Regions from separate parts of the Homo sapiens genome. Here regions 2 and 3 are each linked to region 1. The links come from fine-mapping of genetic effects on gene expression. A gene starts in region 1. Each other region holds a variant in brackets. All regions are shown on one strand. Distances are between the middles of the regions. Region 1 holds the start of ATP8A2 (ATPase phospholipid transporting 8A2). Region 2 overlaps ATP8A2 (ATPase phospholipid transporting 8A2). Region 3 overlaps ATP8A2 (ATPase phospholipid transporting 8A2).

Region 1 (2,756 bases):
TCTCTACTAAAAATACAAAAATTAGCTGGGCGTGGTGGTGGGCGCCTGTAATCCCAGCTACTCGGGAGGCTGAGACACAAGAATCACTTGAACCCGGGCGACGGAGGTTGCAGTGGGCCGAGATAGCGCCATTGCACTCCAGCCTGGGCAACAAGAGCAAAACTCTGTCAAAGAAAAAAAAAAAGTAAAAGAAAATAAAATCAGATGCAGAGGCCAGGCAGGAGGAGCTCAGGCCGCACTGCTGTCTTTGCTAGCACAGATTCTTTTTGCTGAACTCTGTACTACTCCTTGTCAGTCCCTAATGTTAATTTAGGTTAAAAGAAATGTAATGCTCGCATCAGTAAAAGCAAGGTCAGACTTTCACCTGAACAGTTTTATTTTTGTTTTGTTCCGTTTTTACTCCGAGGTCAGAATGTCATCAGGCACAATAAAGATAGCTTCTTATCTTCATGGGATTGTGCCCAGAAAGACCAAGCACAGTCTAAACATTACGCGATAAGAAAAAACAAAAAATAGATCAAGTGACCTTGGACAAGTCATCTTACCTCTCGATGGTTTTGTTTTATGAAAGAAGGTGTGTGTGTGTGTGTGTCGATGGGTGTGTGTGTGTGTGTGTCGATGGGTCTGTGTGTGTGTGTGTGTGTGTCGATGGGTGTGTGTGTGTGTGTGTGTGCGTGCGGGGGTTGAGAAGGTTGCTGTTAAGGTTCCCTAGGGCTACCTGCAGCTTTAATATGCGTAGTTAGAATGTCAGGCAGGTTGTGGAGAGTGGGGGGCTGGAGACCCCCGACTTCTCTGAGTGCCAAGCCACACATCAGACACCTTGGAAATAACCCTTCCACGAAGTCCCTACACAGATCCCACCAGGCTGGGCACGGAAGAACAGAAACTGCGAAAAGAAAGGGACTGGATGAGTCCTGGGGAATCACAGCGCCTCCACTTGCACAGGACAAGTGACAGGCAGGTAAATAGGTAGCAGACAGGCAGAGACTCCGAGTCCCCCAGGTGCACCCCTCTCCTGGAAGAGCCCCCGAAAGTACAGGCCCAATCTCCCACCCCACCAAGCCCTCCCCATCGCCTTCCCCGACACCTAAAAGCCCCGGTCCTGCGTAATATTGCGGATCCCTCCCAGCCTCCCGTCCGCTCCTCCTCCCGCGGGGCTCCGCTCAGGGCCGGTCCCCCGCCCCCACGCCGCAGCCCGGGCCAGCGGGGCCCGCCGCGGTGGCGTTCGCGGATGCTGCCGCATTGGCCGCTGCGGCACGGACGGCGCAGCCTCGGGCGCGGCCCGGCACAGGCGCCGGCGGTCCCCGCCAGCTAGCAGCCCGGCGAGGCGCTGGCCCACCCATGGTCCTCGGGCGGCGGCCCCTGCGCCCAGCCCTGCGCGTAGCCTCCGTCTCTCGCCCGGGGCCGCCGAGCCCCCGACACGGGCGAGATGCTGAACGGCGCAGGCCTGGACAAAGCTCTTAAGATGTCCCTGCCGCGGAGGTCGAGGATCCGCTCGTCCGTGGGTGAGCTGGGAGGGGCGCGGCGAGGGAGGGTGGGCCCGGGGCGGGGGCGGCGCGGGGCGCGCCTGCGGTTATGCGACACTGCCCCGCCCGCGCCCCGCTCCCCTCCCTGGGCTCCCTGGGCTCTCTGGGCTGCAGGATCCGCCGACGCGGCGCGCTGGCCGCACGGGGGCTGGGCGTCGCTGCACCTGCGGGGCCAAAAGGCTCCAGGCCGGGGCGAGGTGAGCGGCGGGCGTCAGAGACCCCCGGCTCGTCCCTGTACAGATGTGTGTGTGTGTGTGCGGCCTCCCTGTGCGCGTGCCCGTGCGCCCCTACGCGCGGATGCGGCTCAGGGATGCGACCTAGGCGGCAGTCACCGCGATGGTGGGCACGGTTTGGCGGCGCAGAGAAGATGCAGCCTTCCCTGCCGGCGGCCGGCACCGCTGTGCTGCAGAGCTCAAAAGCAGAGGGGGAAAAAGGCATCCGAAGGGTCCCTCGAGTGATTCTCACCACTTGGAGCCCCGGGTCCTCGCGCGCTCACAGCGGCGACGTACTGGCTCATAACCATCCGTGCATACAACCATCTGGAGACGAACACACACACGCACACGCGCGCGCACACACACACACAGGTACACACACACGTACACACGCACGCGTACACATACCCTGCCTGCAGGCGCCTGGGTGTTGGAACTCGAAACCTAAAGCCAAACACGCATGTACCATACCCGACCACTCACACTGTTAGAGGCCCGCGTTCTATGATTATAGAACACATTTAGAAACTATGATGTCGTGGAGCTGGATGTTATGTGGCTATGACACTTGATAGGGTTACCTAGACCATTAGTTAATGCAGACGTAAAGAGGAGCCCCAAAAATGATTTCTTACCGTTTCAGGACTGCGGCAAGTTTGCAGGTAGATCTTTGACATGAGGAAGGTAGAGGGTGTACAGTTTGGAGCTGGGGTCACTTGTCTTCGTGCTTTTTTATTTGTTTTGAGAAAATAGGCACATAAAAATAAGCGACTTTTGTATTTCTGTAGTTGAGTAACGTGAGAGGGAAGCAAGCTTATCAGGTAATTTAAGCCAATGTTTGTTAAACTTGGGTAAAGTCAGGACACTTTCACATTCATTTTGAGGAGAATCCCAGCCTGAAGGGGTCACGGGGTGCAGGGTCAAGACTAAATAGCAGGGAAGAGCTGTGGCAGAGAGACAGTGGGAGGGCGCAGTCATACAGGTGTGAGAATTTCCCAAGGTGGAGGCAGCCTGA
Region 2 (2,756 bases), 510 kb after region 1:
TCCCTTGTACCGACATGGTGGGAGAATGGTTAATGGAAGGACAGTGGGGCCTTTCACTCCTGCCTCCTGAACCTCCACCTTTGGGAGGGTCAGTGGCCCTTAGCAAACCAGGACAAGTTGGAGTTACATGGGTCTCTGTTCCCTTCTCCATCACAGCAGCTTTGGGAAGGATTCAACAAGTTTATGTCAGTCCTTGGGGATTGGGGATGATGGCTGCACAGTGTTGGAGGAAGGAAATCATGTCGGGACCTCATTCCCTGCCACTCACCACCCACACGCCCCACTCCCAAGTATTCAAGGGCCAATTTGTTTGTGGATAAAGCAGATCCCCCGCTTCTGCTCCCACTTCTCGCGGGTGCCTTCTAGCTTCCTTTGCTCATTAGCAGGCTCTTAGAAGGCAGGCTGCAGAAGGAGGCAAGAGATCACTCCAAAATCAGAAGTGCTTTGGCTGGCACTTCCCAGCAGCTTCCTTGGGAAGATAGAGGATGTTGTGATCGCCTGGTCTGGGACAGTGATGAGCTTTCTCCCTCCTGATCCTCTGTCAGATGCAGGCAGTCCCCGCTGCTCTGAGCTCTTCAACTGTTACTCTAACCTTGGCCTGAGACTCTCCTAAGCATGCTTTGAAAAGTAAAATTCGTGAGAATGGGGCCCAAACATGAGAGCACCTGGGTGAACAGAGTTTGATTTCATTGCCCCTGCGGCTTCTCCTGCCCCACTCAGGCACTTGCCCTCCTCCCACGAGCCATCCCAGATCCCTGGGGCCCTTCTGCATCACCTCTGACGAGTCCACTCTTGTCCCCTCTCCTGGCCTCTGCCGACTGTTGACTCTGCAGGGAACACAGGAACTCTCTACAGAGATGTAAGGGGCTTGATGCTGTGCCCTTGCCTGCATGGCCTTCCTGTTACTTTGTGGCAGGGCCCACTATCCTGAGCTGGCCTCCATGTCCTGGTCTGCCCAGGGCTCGCTTCCTCTCTCCAGCCTGAGAGTCAGTCTCCTTTCTCCGCTTGCTTTTTTTTTTTTTTTTTTTTTTTTGAGGTGGAGTCTTGCTCTTGTCACCCAGGCTGGAGTGCAGTGGTGCGATCTTAGCTCACTGCAACCTCCGCCTCCTGGGTTCAAGCAATTCTCTTGCCTCAGTACCCCAAGTAGCTGGGACTACAGGTGCCCACCAGCATGCCTGGCTAATTTTTGTATCATTAGTAGAGATGGCGTTTCACCATGTTGGCCAGGCTG[G/A]TCTCGAACTCCTGACCTCAGGTGATCCATCTGCCTCGGCCTCCCAAAGTGCTGGGATTACAGGCATGAGCCACCGCACCAAGCCCGCTTGCTTCTTTTCTCTAATGTCTCTTTTCCTGACCCTGGCCCTCTCTCCTTCTTTTGGGGTGGCTGGCATGCTTCTCACAGAGGCCATCGTAAAGGCTGGGGAGGAGGGCTGGAGCCTGCTGGGGTAATAGTGCCTGTCCTGCCCAGCTCATCTGCAGAGCCCCCGGGGTTGGCGACTGCAGCAGTCTCAGCACATCAGTCCCGAACCAGAGAAATTGCAGTGTCCTGCTGTTTTTCATTATGCTATTTTCTTCCTATTTATTCTATGGTCTTGTTTCTCTTAGAATTAAACAATCAGAAACTGATATGAGGGGAATTCAATCAGAGCAGGGTATTTGTGGAGCCAGGGCATTTCTCCTCTTTGACACAGCCACATGGCTTGTTTTCATGCATTACTCCTTAATAATGTGTTTATTTATCTAGACTCACACGATTCTCTCTTGCCCTGGGTAATCCACTATTAACCGTTAATAACCAGGATCCCTAGTGAAGGAAGGGATTTTTCAAAGAAAAGCAAAGGGAATTGCAGGTTTGAAATTCTAGAGAGAATTTCGGTGGGGGTGAGAATACACCCTCACTGAAGAGAATGTGGGAAAATAACTGAGAGTGCTCTTCAAGAGGCAGATGTTGTACTTCTGCTGATGCTCCACTGTATTCAAGCTGCATTTTGTTTGAAAGAAGCTTTTCCTCCAAGAATATTACAGTAGTTAGTTCTGAAATTGACAAGCAATGTTATATCACGTCTTGGATAAAGTATATATATTTATGTATCTGTAACTAATGAATACTGACATTAAGCTTTCCAAATTACTTAATAGGACACCTGTCCCTCCCAAAAGAAAAGTTGGAATGTCGGGGTGGTGATGGTGGAATAGCGTATTTGTTGCTGGGATGAGGTCATAAAGCTAACTTAACTCTTGTTCTGAAAGAGTCTCAGTGTGGAAACGGTGGCACTTGCCCTGGCTGGGTTTGACTGTGTGAGTTTTGTGTTTTGTAATTAGAAGGGAGGTGTGCCTCTGCTTTATGGACAATGCCTGGCAAATGCTGCCCTCCCTATTTTTGTCGCATCTGCAAGTGTGGTATGCATCTTGTAAACAGGTCACTAATTCCAGGCTAGGGGCTGGAAGGCAGCTATAATCTCGCTCACGTGGTTTCACCCGCTCCATGTGCGCTGGATGCCGACAGCACGAGGGGAAGCCTCTGAGAGCGCGGCTTCGTGGGGCAGAGCATCTCCCAGGCCCACTCCATGGAAATCTCTTCCAAGTGGCAGCCCAGAGCCTCTTCGTGCCATCTGATAGCTGTTCCATAGCGTATAGGAAAACAGCTGAGACTCAGGGCCTTCTCCAGAGGGAGCGCCAGAGATTACTGCCAGGAGAGTGGGAAATGGTGAGAAAAACATGAGGTGGCTTCCACTCTGCAAGCCCTTAGTACTACATAG
Region 3 (2,756 bases), 650 kb after region 1:
GGCCACCACCCTGACCCCATGCTGCAGCCACTTGGGGCCACCAGAATCTAAGATGAAAACAAGCGAGTGGAGAAAGACATCTTCAGGGTGGAGAGCTCAGTAGTCCTCAGCTTCCCACCGGAAGAGTTTATAAAAGAGTATGTCCCATTCTTTGGGGTGACTGTTCTTTACTCAGAACCACTTCTGTAGGACTGAGGAGCAGCCCCGGGAGTGGTGCAGCAGCTGTGGAGCCAGTGACGACCCTGCCATTGCAGCTGCTGTTCTGCCAGGCCCCCTCAGGATGACTTCAGATGTGGACTAGAAACGTTCCTTGTTAAAGAACTGGAGAATGGAAATTGTCCAAGTTGACCACAGTACATAGCCTTGTTACTGGAGCAGACGAAGCAGTGTTATTTGCTAGATTTTGCTTTGAAACATCCCAAGGAAAGACGTCTCCTCTTGGACTGCAGTAAAAATGCTTCATAAAGGGCAGCTTGTACAGGATTGGGGATGAGAGTGTGTGTGCCACACGGTGCCAGAGGGAGGCAGGAGGCTGGGGCAGCTCCTCCAAAGCTGGGCAACGGAGGTTTCCTTGTCCCTGCTGCTAATCTCTGATTAAGCAACTTGGTGAAAATCCAAAAGCTCTTAGGAGAACAGGAGTGGTGGCATTTGCTCTTCGGTGCTTGAAAGCAGATCATGTGAAAACTCTAAAGCCCTGAGAATCAAAGCACAGCCACCTACCTGGTCAGGAAGTTCAAGTGCACTAGGTGTGGGCCCAAGGCTGGCACAAGCATATCCGCCCCCAAGGGAGCTCCCCTCCAGGCTGATGCTGCCTTCAGGCTCAGACACCCACCTGCTCCTGTACCCAGCTGTCTGAGGGCTCACAATGGTCTGGGAGCTGCTTCACTGTGGCTACCATGTGGTGGGAATTTTTGGTTTGTAGGTTTTGTTTTGCTAGAAATGGAGGTGAGCAAGTAGACAAAAGCCCCCTGTGGAAGATTCCTCTCTGTTCTGTTCTCTTCTGTTCTGTTCACCCTGGCTCAGCTTGTATCACCTTCTCTCCCGCCCACTGTCTCTTCCTCCTGTGGCCTCACTGGTCTGGGCCCTCCTCCCTGCTGCTCAGCCCATGTCCTCAGTCAACTCTCAGGCCACCTCTGCAGACAAGCCCTTGCCTCCCCCGATAACCCCCCTGAGCCTTTGGGATTCTCAGGCAGTGGCCAGAAGGCATGCTCTCTGGAAGAGCCAGGAAGCCAGCCCAGGACCGGGACTCTCAGTTATGGGAACACACAGAGTAAGAAAACAGCCTGAGTGTCTTCTTTTAAAGTCTCCTCCTCTTCTCCATCCCACGAGGACTCTTCTGTCTTGTTACTGTATGTCTTGATACTCTAGAAATTTCCTTTTTAAGCCAGATGCCTCAGGAAATTAACAGGCAGTCCAGGAACTGATTCATGGGCACCCTTTTCGACTTCTTTTCTCCTTTTAAAGAGTATGACAGTGAACTCACAGCTCCCCTGATAAGTTGTACGCATGCATGGATGGAATTCAAGATTGTCAGGTTTTTTTATTGTGTTGTCTTTTGGCCAGAATGTCTAATTGAGCTGTGGGACTTTTCCAGACCCCTGACACAGAAGGGTTAGCCAATGGAGAGCAGGCCTTATAAATGTCTTTCTGTGGGAAGGGCCAGTTGGAAGAAAAGCCCCACTCTGGGCTTGTGAACACTAAAGCTGGTTCTCAGCTCTAGAGTGTGGACCCTGGGTTTGCTTCCCA[G/A]CTCTGCCACTCACGAGGTCTGTGACCTTGGGCAGGTCACAAAAATCTCTGTGCCTCAGTTTTCTCATCTGTGAAGTGGGAGGAGTATAATCCCCTATCTCATAGGGTTTCTGGGAGGATTAAATGAGCTTTATTTTATAGCACAGTGTCTTAGACACATGGCATTTAATGAGTCTTGGCTATTATTTATTTTATTAATAGTATATGAACTGATTGTGTAAGAATAGTCTTTGTATGGCCACAGGTCCAATCAATCACTAAATTCCTTTTGAGTTTATTGTGTAACCTTTTTCTTTACATGGAAACAACCCTACTTTGATTACTTATTACCAGTCCAGATCAGTCTGATTTAAAAACAGGGCTGGGTGTGGTGGCTCAGGCCTGTAATCCCAGCACTTTGGGAGGCCAAGGTGGACAGATTGCTTGAGGTCAGGAGTTTGAGACCAGCCTGGCCAACATGGTGAAACCCCGTCTCTACTAAAAATACAAAAAAAAATAGCTGGGCGTGGTGGTGCATGCCTGTAGCCCTAGCTACTCAAGAGGCTGAAGCAGGAGAATTGCTTGAACCCTGGAGGCAGAAGTTGCAGTGAGCTGGGATCGCGCCACTGCACTCCAGCCTAGGCGGCAGAGCAAGACTCTGTCTCAAATAAATAAACAGGAAGGCTCCAGGTATCACGTGCATTTTGCCAGCTTGCACTATTAGTGTTGTGTGTGTGTTTCCCTGGCATGTTTACAGCTTCATAAATTAGCTGGCTGCCCTACAGCATCAGGCAGACAGGAGTGTTTTTTCTTAATTGGCAGTGGGAAAGTGGAGTCGGGGACCAGTGACCCACTGTGTGTGATTCCCACACTGAGCTCAGCCGCAGCCCCCTAGAAATAGGAAACCTACCCTCAGAGGCTTTCCCTTCCCAGCATCAGCAGCTAGAACCATGGGACCCCAGTTAGCCTGCACACGGCCGCCACGGCCCCTCTATGGCCACAGGTTTCTTCATCTCAAGCCTCCACCTATC

The links. PIP is the estimated chance that this variant, and not a neighbour inherited with it, causes the effect.
Region 2: its variant is fine-mapped to the expression of ATP8A2 in whole blood (TOPMed, PIP 0.93).
Region 3: its variant is fine-mapped to the expression of ATP8A2 in whole blood (TOPMed, PIP above 0.99).

The regions. Positions count from the first base shown.
Region 1 is chr13:25,370,784-25,373,539 of GRCh38, forward strand. ATP8A2 (ATPase phospholipid transporting 8A2) reads left to right here and starts at 1,191. Exons shown (of 37, transcript NM_016529.6): 1 at 1,191-1,505. The coding sequence starts at 1,430.
Region 2 is chr13:25,884,097-25,886,852 of GRCh38, forward strand. All of the region lies in intron 33 of ATP8A2 (ATPase phospholipid transporting 8A2), which reads left to right. Among named protein-coding and RNA genes, the nearest start is that of SHISA2, 170 kb to the right of the region's middle. The variant G/A (reference allele first, on the strand shown) is at 1,232.
Region 3 is chr13:26,017,007-26,019,762 of GRCh38, forward strand. All of the region lies in intron 36 of ATP8A2 (ATPase phospholipid transporting 8A2), which reads left to right. Among named protein-coding and RNA genes, the nearest start is that of SHISA2, 34 kb to the right of the region's middle. The variant G/A (reference allele first, on the strand shown) is at 1,747.